2 separate regions of the Homo sapiens genome follow, and region 1 is linked to region 2. Evidence: fine-mapped expression QTL. A gene starts in region 2. The other region holds a variant in brackets. All regions are shown on one strand. Distances are between the middles of the regions.

Region 1 (8,340 bases), 80 kb before region 2:
ATACTGTGGAAACCCCCAACTCAAAGGCTAACTTTGGGTAAGTGGTGGGGTCCAATAAGAAAGTTAGTGTTAATTTTGTGCAAGGTTTCAGTTCATATTCTGATTTCAGTTATCAAAATGTAATTGACAATAGATGCATGGGTGTATTTCTGAACTCTCTGTTCTGTTCCTTCCATTCCTTCCATCTATGTACTATAAACCAAAAGTATCTGAGGCAAGCCTTAATCAATTTAGAAGTTTATTTTGCCAAGGTTAAGGACATCCCCGTGACACAGCCTCAAGAAGTCCTGACAACATGTCACCAAGGTGGTCAGGCTACAGCTTGCTTTTATACATTTTAGGGAGACATAGGACATCATTCAATACTGTAAGATGTACATAGCTTCAGTCCAGAGAGGTGTGACAACTCAAATCAGGGCTTCCAGATCACAGGTGGATTCAAAGATTTTCTGAATGGCAATTGGTTGAAAGACTTATCTAAAGACCTAGAATCAACAGAAGGGAGTGTCTGGGTTAAGATATGGGGTTGTGGATACCAAGGTTCTTATTATGCAGATAAAGCCTCCAGATAGTAGGCTTCAGAGAATATCAGACCTAAAAAGTCTATTCTGTCAGTCTGAAAGTCGCTGTTTCTATGTTAATGCTGGTCAGCTGTGCCTGAATTCCAACGGGAGGAATGTTTAATGAGGCATGTCTGACCACCCATTCCCATTGTAGCCTGAGCTAGTGTTTTAGGTTTACTTTAAAATGCCCTAGCCTGGTGCAGTTGTTCATGCCTGCATTCCCAGCACTTTGGAAGGCTGAGGCAAAAGTATTGCTTGAGTCCAAGAATTTTAGACCGACATGGGCAACGTGGCAAAATCTCGTCTCTACAAAACAATACAAAAATTAGCCAGGTGTGATGGCCTGTGCCTGTAGTCCTAGCTACTCGGGAGGCCGAGGCTGGAGAATTGCTTGAGTTCAGGAAGCAGAGGTTGCAGTGAGCTGAGACTGCACCAGTGCACTCCAGCCTGGGCAACAGAGTGAGACTCTGTCTCAAAAATATAAAATAAAATAAAATAAAATAAAGTAAAGTAAAATAAAATAAAATATAAAATAAAATAATAAAATATAAAAAATATACCCTTGGCCAAAAGGAGGGGTCCATTTCATTGGTTGGGGAATTTAGAATTTTATTTTTGGTTTACAGTATCTCTTTTTTTTTCTTTTGTTACAAATGGGGTTCTTACTCTGTTACCCAGGCTGGATTATAGGCATGAGTCACCGTGCCAAGCTATATACATATTTTTATGCCAGTACCACAGTCTTGATTACTCTAGCTTTATGGTAAATTTTGAAATTTTGAAATCATGTAAGTCCTTGAACTTTGTTCTTTCATTAAATCATATTGGCTTTTCTTGGTCCTTTGGATTTAAAAGATAAATTTTAGGTTCATCATATCAATTTCTTTTAAAGCAAACCCTAATGGTATTTAGATAGAAATTATATTGAATCTATGGATCAATTTTGGGAAAACTGACACCTTGATGATACTGTATTTTCCTATTTGCAAACATGGGACATATCTCCATTTATTTAGGTCTTAATTTCCTTTGACAATGTTTTATAATTTTCAGTGTACTGTCCTGTACTTCTTTCATTAACTTTATTTCTAAATCCTTTATTCTTTTTATGCTATTTGTGAATGTAATTTTTTAAAATTTCCTTTGCAGTTGGTTGTATGTTGATTTTTGTATTTTTATTTTCTTACCTTATTGCACTGGCTGGAACTTTTAGTCCAAGGTTAAATAGAAGTGGTGAGAGTGTACATCCTTTTGCCTTGCACCCAGTCTTAGGAAGAAAGCATCCAGTCATTCACCTTTAAGCATGTTGTTAGTCATAGGTTTATGTAGCTGCCTTTTATCAAAGTAAGAAAGTTTCCTTCTATTCCTAGTTTATTGAGAATTCTACCATGAATAGTAGTTCAATTTTATCAAATGCTTTGTCTGTGTCTATTGAGATGATTATATGGCTTTTTCCTTTAAGGGTCAGCAACATTTTCCAGAAAAGGCTATATAGTAAATATTTTTGGTTTTGTGAGCCATATGAGCTCTGTTGCAACCAATCAACTCTGCTTTGTAGCAGAAAGCAATCATAGACAATATGCAAATGAATGGGCTTGGCTTTGTTTCAGTAAACTTTATTTGCAAAAACAAATGTCATGCCAGATTTGGCCCAAGGGCTATAGTTTGCTTTTGGCTATAGTTTGCTGACCACTGATTTATTCTATTAATATATGTATTACATGAATTGATACTCAGATGTTAAGCTAAAGAACATTCCTGTAATAAATCGACCACACTTGGTAATAGTGTATAATCCTTTTTGTACATTACTGGATCTAATTTGTTGTTATTTAAACAATTTTAGCATTTACATTCATGACGAGTGTTGTTCTATAATTTTCTTGTGATATCTTTGTCTGTGGCTTTTAGTATCAGGGTAAAATGAGCTGTAAAGTGTCCCCTTCTATTCTTGAAAAGATTTCCATTGGATTGGTATTATTAATTATTTAAATGTTAATAGAGTTCCCAATAAAACCATGGAGGCCTGGACTTTGCTTTGAAGAAGATTCTAAAATAATTTAATTAAACGCTTTAATGTTTTTCACTGATATATATCTATGCAAATTGTATAATTTCTTTTTGAGTCTACTTTGATCATTTCTGTTAATGAATTTGCCCATTTCATCTAAGTTGACAAATTGTTGGCATAAGGTTGTTCAAAATATTCCTTTATAAGCCTTTTAATTTCCATAGGGTTCAGAATGCTTCCTCTTTTAATCCCAATTTTGGTAATTTCTGTCTTCTCTCTTTTTTTCTTGGTCATTTGACTAAAAAGTTAACAATTTTGTAGATCTTTTCAAGGAATTAACTGTAAGTTTCACTAATTTTCTCTATTGTTTTGCTGTTTTCTTTTTATTGATTTCTGCTGTGGTCTTTAGTCCTTCATTCTACTTTGGCTTTTCTTTTTGTAGTTTCTTAAGGTGAAAGCTTAATTAATTTTTCTAGGTTATTGAAGTCTTCCTTTCTAATTTTTAAAGCTATAAATTTCTCTCTAAATATTGCTTTACCTGCATTAATTTTGATATGCTCTGATTTTACAGTCATTCAGTAGAAAATATTTTATAATTTCCCTGGAGGTTTTTTCTTTGATGTGTAAACCACAAATAAAATTCAAAAGCCTCCCCCACAAAAATCTGATTGGACTTTCTCCTCAGCCAGGGAACTCTAAAACTTACCCTGAAAGACTGGTTCAGGCCATGAAAGGAAGTAGGGGTTGGACATGCCTCATTACACTCCTCCAGCATTAACCAACACAAACCTTATATCTGATAAGAAACATTGATGGTCTTCTCTCTAATGCCTGCTGGAGGCTTTGTCTGCATGATAAAACCTAGGTCTTCACAACCCTTTATCATAACCCAGACATTCCTTTCTACTGATAATAACTTTTTCAAGCAATTGCCTTCAGAATATGTTTAGGAAGAAGTTGAATCCCTGAATAGACCAATAACAGGCTCTGAAATTGAGGCAATAATTAATAGCCTACCAACCAAGTAGGACCAGATGGATTCACAGCCGAATTCTACCAGAGGTACAAGGAGGAGCTGGTACCATTCCTTCTGAAACTATTTCAATCAATGGAAAAAGAGGAAATCCTCCCTAACTCATTTTATGAGGCCAGCATCATCCTGATACCAAAGCCTGGCAGAGACACAACAAAAAAAGAGAATTTTAGACCAATATCCCTGATGAACATCAATGCAAAAATCCTCAATAAAATACTGGCAAAATGAATCCAGCAGCACGTCAAAAAGCTTATCCACCACGATCAAGTGGGCTTCATCCCTGCGATGCAAGACTGGTTCAACATATGCAAATCAATAAACGTAATCCAGCATATAAACAGAGCCAAAGACAAAAACCACATGATTATCTCAATAGATGCAGAAAAGGCCTCTGACAAAATTCAACAGCCCTTCATGCTAAAAACTCTCAATAAATTTGGTATTGATGGGATGTACCTCAAAATAGTAAGAGCTATTTATGACAAACCCACAGCCAATATCATACTGAATGGGCAAACACTGGAAGCATTCCCTTTGAAAACTGGCACAAGACAGGGATGCCCTCTCTCACCACTCCTATTCAACATAGTGTTGGAAGTTCTGGCCAGGGCAATCAGGCAGAAGAAAGAAATAAAGGGTATTCAATTAGGAAAAGAGGAAGTCAAATTGTCCCTGTTTGCAGATGACATGATTGTATATTTAGAAAACCCCATTGTCTCAGCCCAAAATCTCCTTAAGTTGATAAGCAACTTCAGCAAAGTCTCAGGATACAAAATCAATGTTGAGAAATCACGAGCATTCCTATACACCAATAACAGACAAACAGCCAAATCATGAGTGAACTCCCATTCACAATTGCTTCAAAGAGAATAAAATACCTAGGGATCCAATTTACAAGGGATGTGAAGGACCTCTTTAAGGAGAACTACAAACCACTGCTCAACAAAATAAAAGAG[G/C]ACAAAAAAAATGAAAGAACATTCCATGCTCATGGATAGGAAGAATCAATATCATGAAAATGGCCATACTGCCCAAGGTAATTTATAGATTCAATGCCATCCCCATCAAGCTACCAATGACTTTCTTCACAGAATTGGAAAAAACTAAAGTTCATATGGAACCAAAAAAGAGCCCGCATTGCCAAGACAATCCTAAGCCAAAAGAACAAAGCTGGAGGGATCACGCTACCTGACTTCAAACTATACTACAAGGCTACAGTAACCAAAACAGCATGATACTGGTACCAAACCAGAGATATAGACCAATGGAACAGAACAGAGCCCTCAGAAATAATGCCACACATCTACAACCATCTGATCTTTGATAAACCTGACAAAAACTAGAAATGGGGAAAGGATTCCCTATTTAATAAATGGTGCTGGGAAAACTGGCTAGCCATAGATAGAAAGCTGAAACTGGATCCCTTCCTTACACCTTATACAAAAATTAATTCAAGATGGATTAAAGACTTAAATGTTACACCTAAAACCATAAAAACCCTAGAAGAAAACCTAGGCAGTACCATTCAGGACATAGGCGTGGGCAAGGACTTCATGTCTAAACACCAAAACACCAAAAGCAATGGCAACAAAAGCCAAAATTGACAAATGGGATCTAATTAAACTAAAGAGCTTCTGCACATCAAAAGAAACTACCATCAGAGTGAACAGGCAACCTACGGAATGGGAGAAAATGTTTGCAATCTACCCATCTGACAAAGGCCTAATATCCAGAATCTACAGAGAACTTAAACAAATTTACAAGAAAAAATCAACCCCATCAAAAAGTGGGTGAAGGATATGAACAGACCCTTCTCAAAAGAAGACAGTTATGCAGCCAACAGACACATGAAAAAATGCTCATCATCACTAGCCATCAGAGAAATGCAAATCAAAACTGCAATGAGATACCGTCTCACACCAGTTAGAATGGCGATCATTAAAAAGTCAGGAAACAACAGGTGCTGGAGAGGAGGTGGAAAAATAGGAACACTTTTACACTGTTGGTGGGACTGTAAACTAGTTCAACCATTGTGGAAGACAGTGTGACAATTCCTCAAGGATCTAGAACTAGAAATACCATTTGACCCAACCATCCCATTACTGGGTATATACCCAAAGGATTATAAATCATGCTGCTATAAAGACACATGCACACGTATGTTTATTGTGGCACTATTCACAATAGCAAAGACTTGGAACCAACCCAAATGTCCATCAATGATAGACTGGATTAAGAAAATGTGGCACATATATACCATGGAATACTATGCAGCCATAAAAAATGATGAGTTCATGTCCTTTGTAGGGACATGGATGAAGCTGGAAACCATCATTCGCAGCAAACTATGGCAAGGACAAAAAACCAAACATCGCATGTTTTCACTCATAGGTGGGAATTGAATAATGAGAACACATGGACACAGGAAGGGGAACATCACACACCGGGGCCTGTTGTGGGATTGGCAGAGCGGGGAGGGATAGCTTTAGGAGATATACCTAATGTTAAATGACGAGTTAATGGGTGCAGCACACCAACATGGCACATGTATACATATGTAACAAACCTGCACATTGTGCACATGTACCCTAAAACTTAAAGTATAATAAAAAATAAAATAAAATAAAATAAATATATATTTTAAATATACATTTATTTTAAATATATAAATATTTAAATAAATATAAATAATTATAATTTATAATTTATTTATAATAAATAAATAAAAATAAAACTATATGGAGCCCTTAAGTGTTTTAGGTACTTGACATCTATTGTGTATTATTACCCCCATTTAATAGTTCAGGAAACTCAGACCCAAAGAGATGGAGGAACTTCACTAAGATTACACAGTGAGTCACTGCAAAGTTGCAAAACCTGGTCTGACTGACCATCTTGCAGGATATTCCCTTTTTTTTTTTTTTTTTTTTCTTAGATGGAGTCTCACTCTGTCACACAGGCTGGAGTGCAGTGATTTGATCTCGGCTCAAATTTCAAAGCAATGAAATTCCTGAAAGCCACTTAGTTATTGGGAGAGAAGAAGATTAAAAGAAAGAAAAATTAGTGAGTGAAGAATGGAGAGGTATTGGATGGGAAGATATTGTGGGAGAAATGGAATCTTGAAACTAAGGAGATTGGCCAAAGGTTTTTGTTTTTTGTTTTTGTTTGTTTGTTTGTTTTTGAGACAGGGTCTCACTCTATCACTCAAGCTGGAGCACAGTGGAAAAATCATGGCTCGCTGTATTCTTGACTTCCTGGGCACAAGCGATCCTCCCACCTCCACCTCAGCCTCCAGAGTAGCTGGGACCACAGGAACATGCCACCATGCCTGGCTAATTTTTGTATTTTTGTAGAGATAGGGTCTGGCTATGTTGCCCAAGCTGGTCTCAAACTCCTGGGCTCAAGAGATCCTCCCCTCTCAGCCTCCCAAAGTGCTGGGATTGGTGTGAGCCACTATGCCCAGATGAAAGATTCTTTAGTCCAGTAGACACACACACACACACACACACACACACACACACACACACACACACACACCTCAGTTCAAATGAAATCTCAGCTGGGATCCCATTCAGGTCATCAAAATCGTTAGCATATTAACATTTATTGAGCACTCATGTGCCAGGTATAAGGCCCAGCTCTTTTCAAACATGATCTCATTGAATCCTCCCAACAGCAGAATAGGTAATTTTATTAGCCCCATTTTATGGATGAGGTTTTTTGTTTTGTTTTGAGATGAAGTCTGGCTCTGGCGCCCAGGCTGGAGTGCAGTGGCACAATCTCAGCTAACTGCAACCTCCACCTCCTGGGTTCAAGCGATTCTCCCGCCTCAGCCTCCTAAATAGTTGGGATTACAGGCATGCACCACTACACCTGGCTAATTTTTGTGTTTTCAGTAGGGACGGGGTTTCATCATGTTGGCCAGGCTGGTCTCCAACTTCTGACCTCAGGTAATCCACCTGCCTTGGCCTCCCAAAGTGCTGGGATTACAGGCATGAGCCACCATGCCTGGCCAAGGTCAACTCTTTAACATCAAAGCTGGACTCCAACCCAGGTGTCTCTTCCACTAGGTATCTGAAGAACTTGTCACCCACTCTGGGATGGATAGGCCATTAGGGAGAGTCAGGCTGGGTTAGGGAGATGTGGATGAGGGAGAGGCTCACCCAAGAAGTGGAGGGATGGGACGTAGGAGTCCTGACTGCTGCCCCAGACTCCTATGAAATAAAGAGATGAGCTCAGCTTGTCACTGGAAAATCTCTGTGGAGTATTCATTGTGCCTGAAGTTCTATGATGGTGGCAGTGGACAGATGAAAAGTACTATCTCTTAAAGAGATTAAGTATGTTTGAACACAACTTCATTTCTTGTTGAAAATACATTTCATTTCCCCTCCCTTCATTCCCCCACCAAATGCATTGTACTGCTTTGGAGTACTTGGAAAAACCAGTTTAAAAACCTTGAGGCTGGGTATGGTGGTTCATGCCTGTAATCCCAGCACTTTGGGAGGCCAAGGCGGACGGAATCACCTGCGGTCAGGAATTTGAGAACAGCCTGGCCAACATGGTGAAACCCTGTCTCTTCTAAAAATACAAAAATTAGCCGGATGTGGTGGCAGGCCCCTGTAATCCCAGCTACTTTACTCTGGAGGCTGAGGCAGGAGAACCACTTGAACCCAGGTCGCAGAGGCTGCAGTGACCTGATATCATGCCACTGCCCTCCAGCCTGGGCGACAGAG
Region 2 (8,340 bases):
TTTTGCGCTTCAGTTCTGGTGTGCTTAACCATGCAAGCCCTCCCACCTCCCAGGGCTCCTTGCCTTAGGTGGCTGTAGCATCCCTACCACCCAGGACACTGGTGCGAATGACACAACTCAAGTTGGGAGGGGAACAGGGAAGGAAGGGATGGATGGGGGTGGTGTATCTTACTCTGTTTAAGCAGAACACCTTGTTTGCGGTGTTGGAACATGGTTCCTTTGGCAGAAGTGCTTTTTTTTTAATCGCAGTACTATTTTTATAAAGCAAGAACTATTCCATGCCTTGGAGAATGAATCATTTTTAGATTGTGACATAAATCTTGTAAAAACCTGTCAGTTATTTTCATCTATGAGAGAAGAGGAGCCCAAACTCTCGCCCACCTGTTCTTAACCAGAAAACCCACTGACTTTGAAAATCTCACCTCTGCCACCCATCTACTTGCATTCGTCTTTGGCAGACCTCAAGATAAATATGGGTTAATGCCTGCATGATGCCTCTGAATTCAGGAATTGCAGGGAAAACTCGGGGCTTTGTGCCAGTCTCTAAGTTGGCAACTTTGGCTGAACAAATGAGTAGTGGCTTCAGTGTCCTTGCGTACACATTCTGTGGATTGATTTAATGGAGTTGTCAGCATGATCATCATCTTCTAGCCAGGGGCATAGTTGCCAAGGCCATTTACCTCTTTCTAAGAAGAAACAGAATTATGTGTATATATGAGAGAAAGAAACAAGAATGCGTGAATGAGGATGAAGAAACATTTACCCCATGTACTCAAGACATTTCAGTTTTAAAAGTCACTTTCCTATTAGACTTCTTGAAAAACATTCTCACATAGCCTCTATGTAATCAGACAAATGACATTTGATTTCAAGAGCAGAGGGGTAAACATCCTCTGCTAATCGACAGGTAGCAGGTGTCAGAGGAGGCATAATATTAATAGCGCCACCTTCTGTTGGGTCAGTGGAGATGGGTGAGGAACAGCACAGAGCAGCAGGGATCATCACATGCAGCCAAACTTGGCCTCTGAAGGGGGAAGGTAGTGGGAATAGGTGGTGAGAGAACTCACATTTTTCTCTTGTCCTGGTTTTATATTTCGGAGGGAAAGGATTATTTGGCCCCATTAAGAATTAAGAGGCTGGGTGCGGTGGCTCACGTCTGTAATCCCAGCACCTTGGGAGGCCCAGGCAGGCAGATCACCTGAGGTCGGGAGTTCGAGACCAGCGTGACCAACGTGGAGAAACCCCCGTCTCTACTAAAAATACAAAAAATTAGCTGGGCATGGTGGTGCATGCCTGTGATTCCAGCTACTTGGGAGGTTGAGGCAGGAGAATCATTTGAACTCAGGAGGCGGAAGTTGCGGTGAGCCAAGATTGTGCCATTGCACTCCAGCCTGGGCAACGAGCGAAACTACATCTCAAAAAAAAAAAAAAAAGACATGGCTGGGCATGGTGGCTCACACCTGTAATCCCAGCACTTTGGGGGGCTGAGGCAGGTAGATCACTTCAGGCCAGGAGTCCAAGACCAGCACGTCCAACATGGCAAAACCCAGTCTGTACTAAAAATAGAAAAATTAGCTGGGCGTGGTGGCGTGTGCCTGCAATACCAGCTACTCAGAAGGCTGAAGCAGGATAATTGCTTGAACCTGGTAGGTGGAGGTTGCAGTGAGCTGAAATCATGCCACTGCACTCCAGCCTGGGTGACAGAGCAAAACTGCCTTAAAAAAAAAAATTAAGAGACAGCCCGTGTCCCAGTCCCTCGTCTTGCACTGCAGAATTTACATCTAAGAAGAAAATGTATTTTTGAAAGGGTGATGGCTGGCCTCATCCCTCACTAATTGACAACCCATCTGTCGATGCCATTTTTTCCCTTCCTGTTCTCACTCCACAGAAAGAGGAGATACGGTTCTTGTTTGGTAATTGCTAAAATCTCTTTGAGGAAAGAAATAAAGATGTCAACTCCTTTGGCCTGCTTTTTCATTTATTTTTCTTAGACAAATAGACTATATGAAATCTAACTTTTGTGTATATCTCTGGGTAGCCTAGGATACACATGCCCTCATCATAGCAGTGGTTCACAAACTTCTGGATGCAAAAAAAAAAATTACTTGGAATGCTTGTTTAAAATGCACATTTTTGGCTCCTCCCAGCCCCCAGAAAGGTTTGAAGCTCAACAATCTTTTTTTTTTTTTTTTTTTTTTTTGAGATGGAGTCTCGCTCTGTCAGCTCACTGCAACCTCTGCCTCTCAGGTTCAAGTGATTCTCCTGCCTTAGCCTCCTGAGTAGCTGGGACTACAGACACGCACCACCATGCCTGGCTTAATTTTTGTATTTTTAGTAGAGACGGGGGTTTTCACTACATTGGCCAGGCTGGTCTCGAACTGCTGACCTCGTGATCCGCCCGCTTCAGCCTCCCAAAGTGCTGGGATTACAGGTGTGAGCCATCACGCCCAGCCAGCAATCTGATTTTTAGCCCCAAAGGCTTCTGATATGTGTGGTTGTCAATATACAGCAGCTTCGGCAGCAAGGCCCTCGGTATACTGTGATAGGCTGGGTGGGAAGGAAGTAAGATAATGTAGCTGTTGATTGGCAATTTTAACTTAATGGTAAGTTGACAGCATTTTATATCAAAATACAAGTAGGCATTAGAGTACAAATTTTCAAGAAAACCACCCAGAGAAACGTGCTTTCTGTGGGTCTTAAATGACACTATAAAGGCTATCACTCAGTTTTGCCATATGATGTGGGGATGAGCGCTCATTTGTTGAATTGCCAGCAATTCTGCAGCTTTGAGTTTTTTATTCAGGCAGGGGGTTTTGAACAAAGTGATAAGCTGGGTTCAAAACCTGTGCCATAAAGAAACCTGTACTGCTACCAATTAGAAGCCACTGTTTGATGGTTTTTGTTTTTTTTTTTTTTTTGAGATGGAGTCTCCCTCTGTCACCCCAGCTGGAGTGCAGTGGCGCGATCTCAGCTCACTGCAACCTCCGCCCCTCCAGGTTTAAGCAATTCTCTGCCTCAGCCTCCAGCGTAGCTGGGATTACAGGCGCGTGCCACCACGCCCGGCTAATTTTTTGTATTTTTAGTAGAGACGGGGTTTCACCATCTTGGCCAGGCTGGTCTTGAACTCCTGACCTCGTGATCCACCCGCCTCGGCCTCCCAAAGTGCTGGGATTACAGGCGTGAGCCACCGCGCCCGGCCTGCTTGATGGTTTTGTCTTCGCTGTAGTATGCATTCATCCCAAGGTATATTTCAGAGTTGTATATTAATTTTCATCTTGCTCTCTAAGGTACTCTCCAGTATTCTCTTGGACTTCCTAAGTCTTAAGGAAACTGAAATGTACACAAAGCAACTAGTACAGAGAATACTAGTTGATGGCAGTTTGAGAATGTGGTGACGGGCAAGTGATGTGTGGCCTGTAGGTGAGTGGAAACATTTTGGCTCTGCTGGATGAGAAGGTTATATCTGGGCCTTCCGCGAAGAGTAGACTGTCATTTTAAAATCAACCAAAAAATATTTTGCCGAACTGAGACTATAAAGTAGCAAGTGGTATGATCAGGTCTTGGGAATTTTCCATAGTTTCCTCCAAGAGCTGGATCTTCGTTTCTTCCAATTGGTTAGCAATGCTTAGAAAGACAGTGATATAATGAATTTTCTTTGATACTAAGCACAAATTTGTTTATGCACAGGGTATAGGAAATGGAGGACAGACACCCAGTATTGGCTGACATGCATCTATTATGAGCTCTGTAGGCAGTATCTCTCCATCCTGAGGTCAGTTCTATAAGGTAGGTGCTATTTATATCATATTTCAGACGAGAAACACGCTAAATACTTTGAGCCCAGATAGGCTATTCTTCCCACCCTATCAGTAGTACTCAGCATGGAAGCAAACTGAGACATTCATTGCCTTCCTCCAGACGCTTCCTGCCAGCTCAAGCTAGGATGCGATCCCGAGCTCATTCCCGGGGAACCCAGAGTATTAACAAACACCCTAAGTGATAATGATACAGACGGGGAAACTGCGCTGGAGCAGGTCAAGCAGCAGTCGACAGCGTTAACCTGTCAGCTATGGGAGGAGGCGGTGCGAGGCGCGGGCTGGTCGGAGCCGCGTACCACGCCCCCCGGCCCGGGTGGAACGAGGACAGGTGCTGCCCTCCCGCGGCCGCTTCGGCGCAGTGCAACCCCGCGCCGCGGCTGCGCAGTGCCGCCCTCTGGCGGCTTCGTTCCTTCTTCCCATCGGCCTCGGCTTGCGGGCCTTTCAAACATGGAGGAGCGGGAGCGGGGGGCGAGGTCGGCTGGCGCCGGGAGCCCCGCGCGCCCGCCCAGCCCGCGGCTGGATGTCAGCTCTGACAGCTTCGACCCGCTGCTGGCCCTGTACGCGCCCCGCCTGCCTCCCATTCCCTACCCCAATGCCCCCTGCTTCAACAACGTGGCGGAGTACGAGAGCTTCCTCAGGACCGGAGTCCGGGGCGGCGGGCGCGGGCGCGGGCGGGCTCGGGGCGCGGCCGCGGGCTCTGGGGTTCCCGCCGCACCCGGGCCCTCGGGCAGGACTCGTCGCCGCCCGGACGCGCCCGCCCCGGACCCCGAGCGCATCCAGCGCCTCCGCCGTCTCATGGTGGCCAAAGAGGAAGGGGACGGGGCCGCAGGAGCGGGCCGGAGGGGTCCGGGTCGGAGCAGGAAGGCGCCACGCAACGTGCTCACGCGAATGCCCTGTGAGTCCGCGGGCCGGGCGGGAAGCGGGGCAGCCGCCGTCCGGAAGCTGGCTGCCGAGGGGGCGTCTGCGGGGCGGCGGTGGCCGGGCGCGGGTCTGCACGTATTGCGGGAGCGCCTTGGTGAAAATTTGCGGGGATCATCAGTGACTATGGGGTGGATCTGCTTGAGTAATGTGGGTAATGAGGGCGTGGGGAGGGTCACCCTGAGTAAGAAAAGGGGCTGTAGGAGCAACAGAGGGAGAGTGGTAAGGCTGTAGTGGTCATAAGAAGCCGTGGGAAAGGTCTTCAGCGGTAATCGGGGCCCATGGAAGGGTCACAGAGGTGATGAGCCTGCCGAGAGGGTCTACAGGATTGATGGAGGACCTGGAGAGGTGGCGGGGCTACAGAGTTTGGGGGACATCATAGGGACGTCTACAGAGGTGATGAGAGGTCTTAGAGACCACAGTGAGAGGTAAGGTGGGGCGGAAAACGGGAGACGTGGGGGAGCGCACAGCCAATATTAGGGGAAGGAGAGTATTTGGTCAGTGGGATTTGAGGATGATCGGATGGAGTGTGGGGAGATTTGTTCAGATAGCACAGGCGCATAATCCCATAACCCCTGTACATTGACAGCTCCTTCTCGAGTGCGATAAGCAGAAGGGCTGCAGAGTCTTGATACACATATGTTCACATTACTAAGTCACAAGTGCTGAAATGCAGCAGGCACAGAATGCCACTAAAACACAGACGCTGTTTTACAGCCACTCTGCCTGGCTGGGTGCAGGACTGTGTCTGTCAGGCTCATATTACCATATGTGCAGGTTATTTTAAGTTCTAAAGGTGTAAATGGCACAAGGGAATTTCTTGGAGCCTCCTCATAGATCCTTAGAGTAAAGCTGTAAACAGCAGAGGCTCTAATGTGTGAGTTAGGTCTTGTATAAATGGAATAAAAACAGCCTAAGGTTATCTCTTTTGTCATCTGGCAAGCAGTTCTGACATCTGCCCTGTGAACACAATGACCTACTTAGCCATTCAAAGCATCTGTATCCTGATAATTAAATTGTTACCTTATTAAGTCACTGTCTTTTGGATGGAGAGGTGTGCCAAGCAAGGGACTGTTTTGCTTCATTCCTAGAAATTTGTTTATTAAGAGAGAACATCCTGAAACGCTCTGTGCTGTTCCGTGTGCCTTCGTTGGATGTCTTACCATGCCACAGCATCCCTGCCCAAGCTAGGATTTACCCCGGCCTGCTTGCCTGGCTGTAACACAAAGACAGTATGCTTGTTCCCAAAATGAGAGCAGTTTGGGGGACCTTAATTTGCCTATGCAATTTGCCACCATTAGGTAGTTGAAATGCACTCCAAGTCTCATTGCAACATTTATTTCTATTTTACCAGTTATTGCTTTGCTACCAAGATTGTCAAGGGAAAGGAATATTCCTGTGTATTGCTATGTGGTGGGTGGTTTTAGCTTTCCCTATAGAGCACTTTACTGTAATGGTATGACAGTGTGTGAAGACCAGCTTTGTCAACTTCTTATGATTAAGTATATATCCCTGGAATCAAGATCTCAGAGAATATGCCCTACATACTGAAAATTTTCACCATGGCACTGCAGACAGTTGAGTGTACATGAGAGAAAGGCATTGACGTCGCACAGAGTTGATGACCTTCAGAAAGCAAGAAAACAACAGAAACATGGGTGAGGATTGGATTCATTCAAGAAAGAGTTCCTACTTGAGGGTGAAGGGTGGGAGGAGGGTGAGAATCACAAAACTACCTATTGGGTACTGTGATCACTACCTGGGTGACAAAATAATTTGTGCACCAAACCCCAGTGACACACGATTTACACCTGCAACAAACCTTTCGTGTACCTCCTGATCCAAAAACAAAAGTTGGAAGGGGGGAAAAAAAAGAACTAGGTATGTTTTATATGTATGCCACAGTTTTAATTTAAAAAAATATATGCCTACTCTAAACTCTGATTGGATACAGTTGCTCAGGAAAATCAAAATATAGATACCAGTAAGATAATACTATTTGTGGACATATACAAATGCTTTCTGGAAAAAAATGCCTATGCATTTGAGAATGCATAATCCTTTGCAAAATATTCACATAAAATGTAAGTTCCATCAGGCTGTAACAGCAAGAAGAAGCTTTGTTAGGTCATATCATCAGTGAAACATAATGAAGAATACATGAGGAGCTACATTTTGTCGCTGACTTTAAAATGATGTATTTCATCAATTCAGATCCAAGTTACCCATCCAAATTCACAGAGAGGACAGTGTGGAATGTTTATGAAAAAACAAGGAGTGCAAAATTAAGTGTAATGGTGTTTTAACTGTAAAATATTTCACTTTGTATCTCTGTCATAGAATCTCTTTGAATTCCCTTGTGGAGCAGTTGTATTCTTTTCCTTGCAGTAATAAAATTTTAAAAGTAGCCAGGCACAGTGGCTCACACCTGTAATCCCAGCACTTTGGGAGGCCGAGGCGGGCAGAACACTTGAGGCCAGGAGTTCAAGACCAGCCTGGCCAACGTGGTGAAACCCTGTCTCTACTAAAAATACAAAAATTAGTTGGGCATGGCAGCATCTGCCTCTAGTTCCAGCTGTTCAGGAGGATGAGGCACGAGAATCGCTTGAACCCTGTAAGTGGAAGCTGCAGTGAGCCGAGATCATAGGGACATCATAGAGACCTCTACAGAGGTGATACGAGGTCTCAAAAAAAAGTAATAATAAAAGTATAGGAGGCTGTTGCAATACTGGGAATACTAAAGAAGAAAAAAAGCATAGGAGGAAAGGTTTTTCGTCATCATTAAGCCTAAGCCATCACTGATACCAACAAAGAACTCACACACAAGCTGTACTTGCAAGTGGAATGCAATTGCTTTTCCTCCTTTTTAATATTGACATGCCTATAGAGATGGTAAGACAAGACTAAAGAGCATTATCCTCTTTTCCACATAATTCTAGTGTCTATATTTCTCCTTAGTATCGCAGCACCATACCTAGCCCACGGTGGTTCTGGTTTATAATTGTGCTTCAAGCAAGCTTTTTCTAGGTATATCTGTCACTGTGAAATGAACTGGTGTGTTCAAGCTCACGTCTTGACATTATAAAGCTGTAAGAAAAAGTGTTATCATTACTTTGTTTTAGCTACAGGTGTGTTGGTGTGCAGCCTGTGCCGGTGTGAACAAGTGTGTGTGGTCAATCCAAAATGCATATGACATGCAGGGTTTGGCTCCTAGACCATTGTCTAGGTGAATGGCTTGTCTCCAGTTCCAAATTCAGTTTTCCTGCAGGGAGCCTACACAGTCCTTTTACTCGCACACATCCTGCTGAGAAGGATTTCAAAACAAACCTGATTTATTGGGCCTCTGACGTGATACCATGATTGAAAATTTGTTTGAGTCCTGTTGTTGTAGTTTACTTTGATTGCTGAAATAATTTCCCACAATATGGTGTCTTGATGTTTTCATTTTAATAAAGTGATATTCTTTGGATAACTTTGACTTCACTTCCTGCAAATAAAGAGCAAGAAAATAGGCAAAATCAAGAACATCTGAGCCCTGTGTACAGCAGTAAAATGAACTCTCAAATTTGAACAGCATCTCTGTTACACAGAGGTTGCCAAAAGG

Direction of the effects. Positions count from the first base shown, and alleles are read on the strand shown. Sizes are in standard deviations (SD) of each study's normalised expression.
For the expression in lymphoblastoid cells of the gene that starts at base 4,227 in region 2, C is the low allele of the variant in region 1 and G is the other (moderate effect, 0.74 SD a copy in GEUVADIS).

Evidence for each region. PIP is the estimated chance that this variant, and not a neighbour inherited with it, causes the effect.
Region 1: its variant is the best candidate, but not a certain one, in a credible set for the expression of LSM11 in lymphoblastoid cells (GEUVADIS, PIP 0.72).

The regions. Positions count from the first base shown.
Region 1 is chr5:157,659,385-157,667,724 of GRCh38, forward strand. LOC105377675 (a long non-coding RNA gene) reads left to right here. Exons shown (of 3, transcript XR_941127.3): 3 at 1-2,653. It also overlaps a transcript of SOX30 not described here. Among named protein-coding and RNA genes, the nearest start is that of C5orf52, 8.0 kb to the right of the region's middle. The variant G/C (reference allele first, on the strand shown) is at 4,567.
Region 2 is chr5:157,739,486-157,747,825 of GRCh38, forward strand. It overlaps LSM11 (LSM11, U7 small nuclear RNA associated), which reads left to right and starts at 4,227. Exons shown (of 4, transcript NM_173491.4): 1 at 4,227-4,713. The coding sequence starts at 4,266. THG1L (tRNA-histidine guanylyltransferase 1 like) reads left to right here. Exons shown (of 6, transcript NM_017872.5): 6 at 1-1,964. RefSeq lists a silencer at 4,011-4,570 and an enhancer at 4,590-5,090.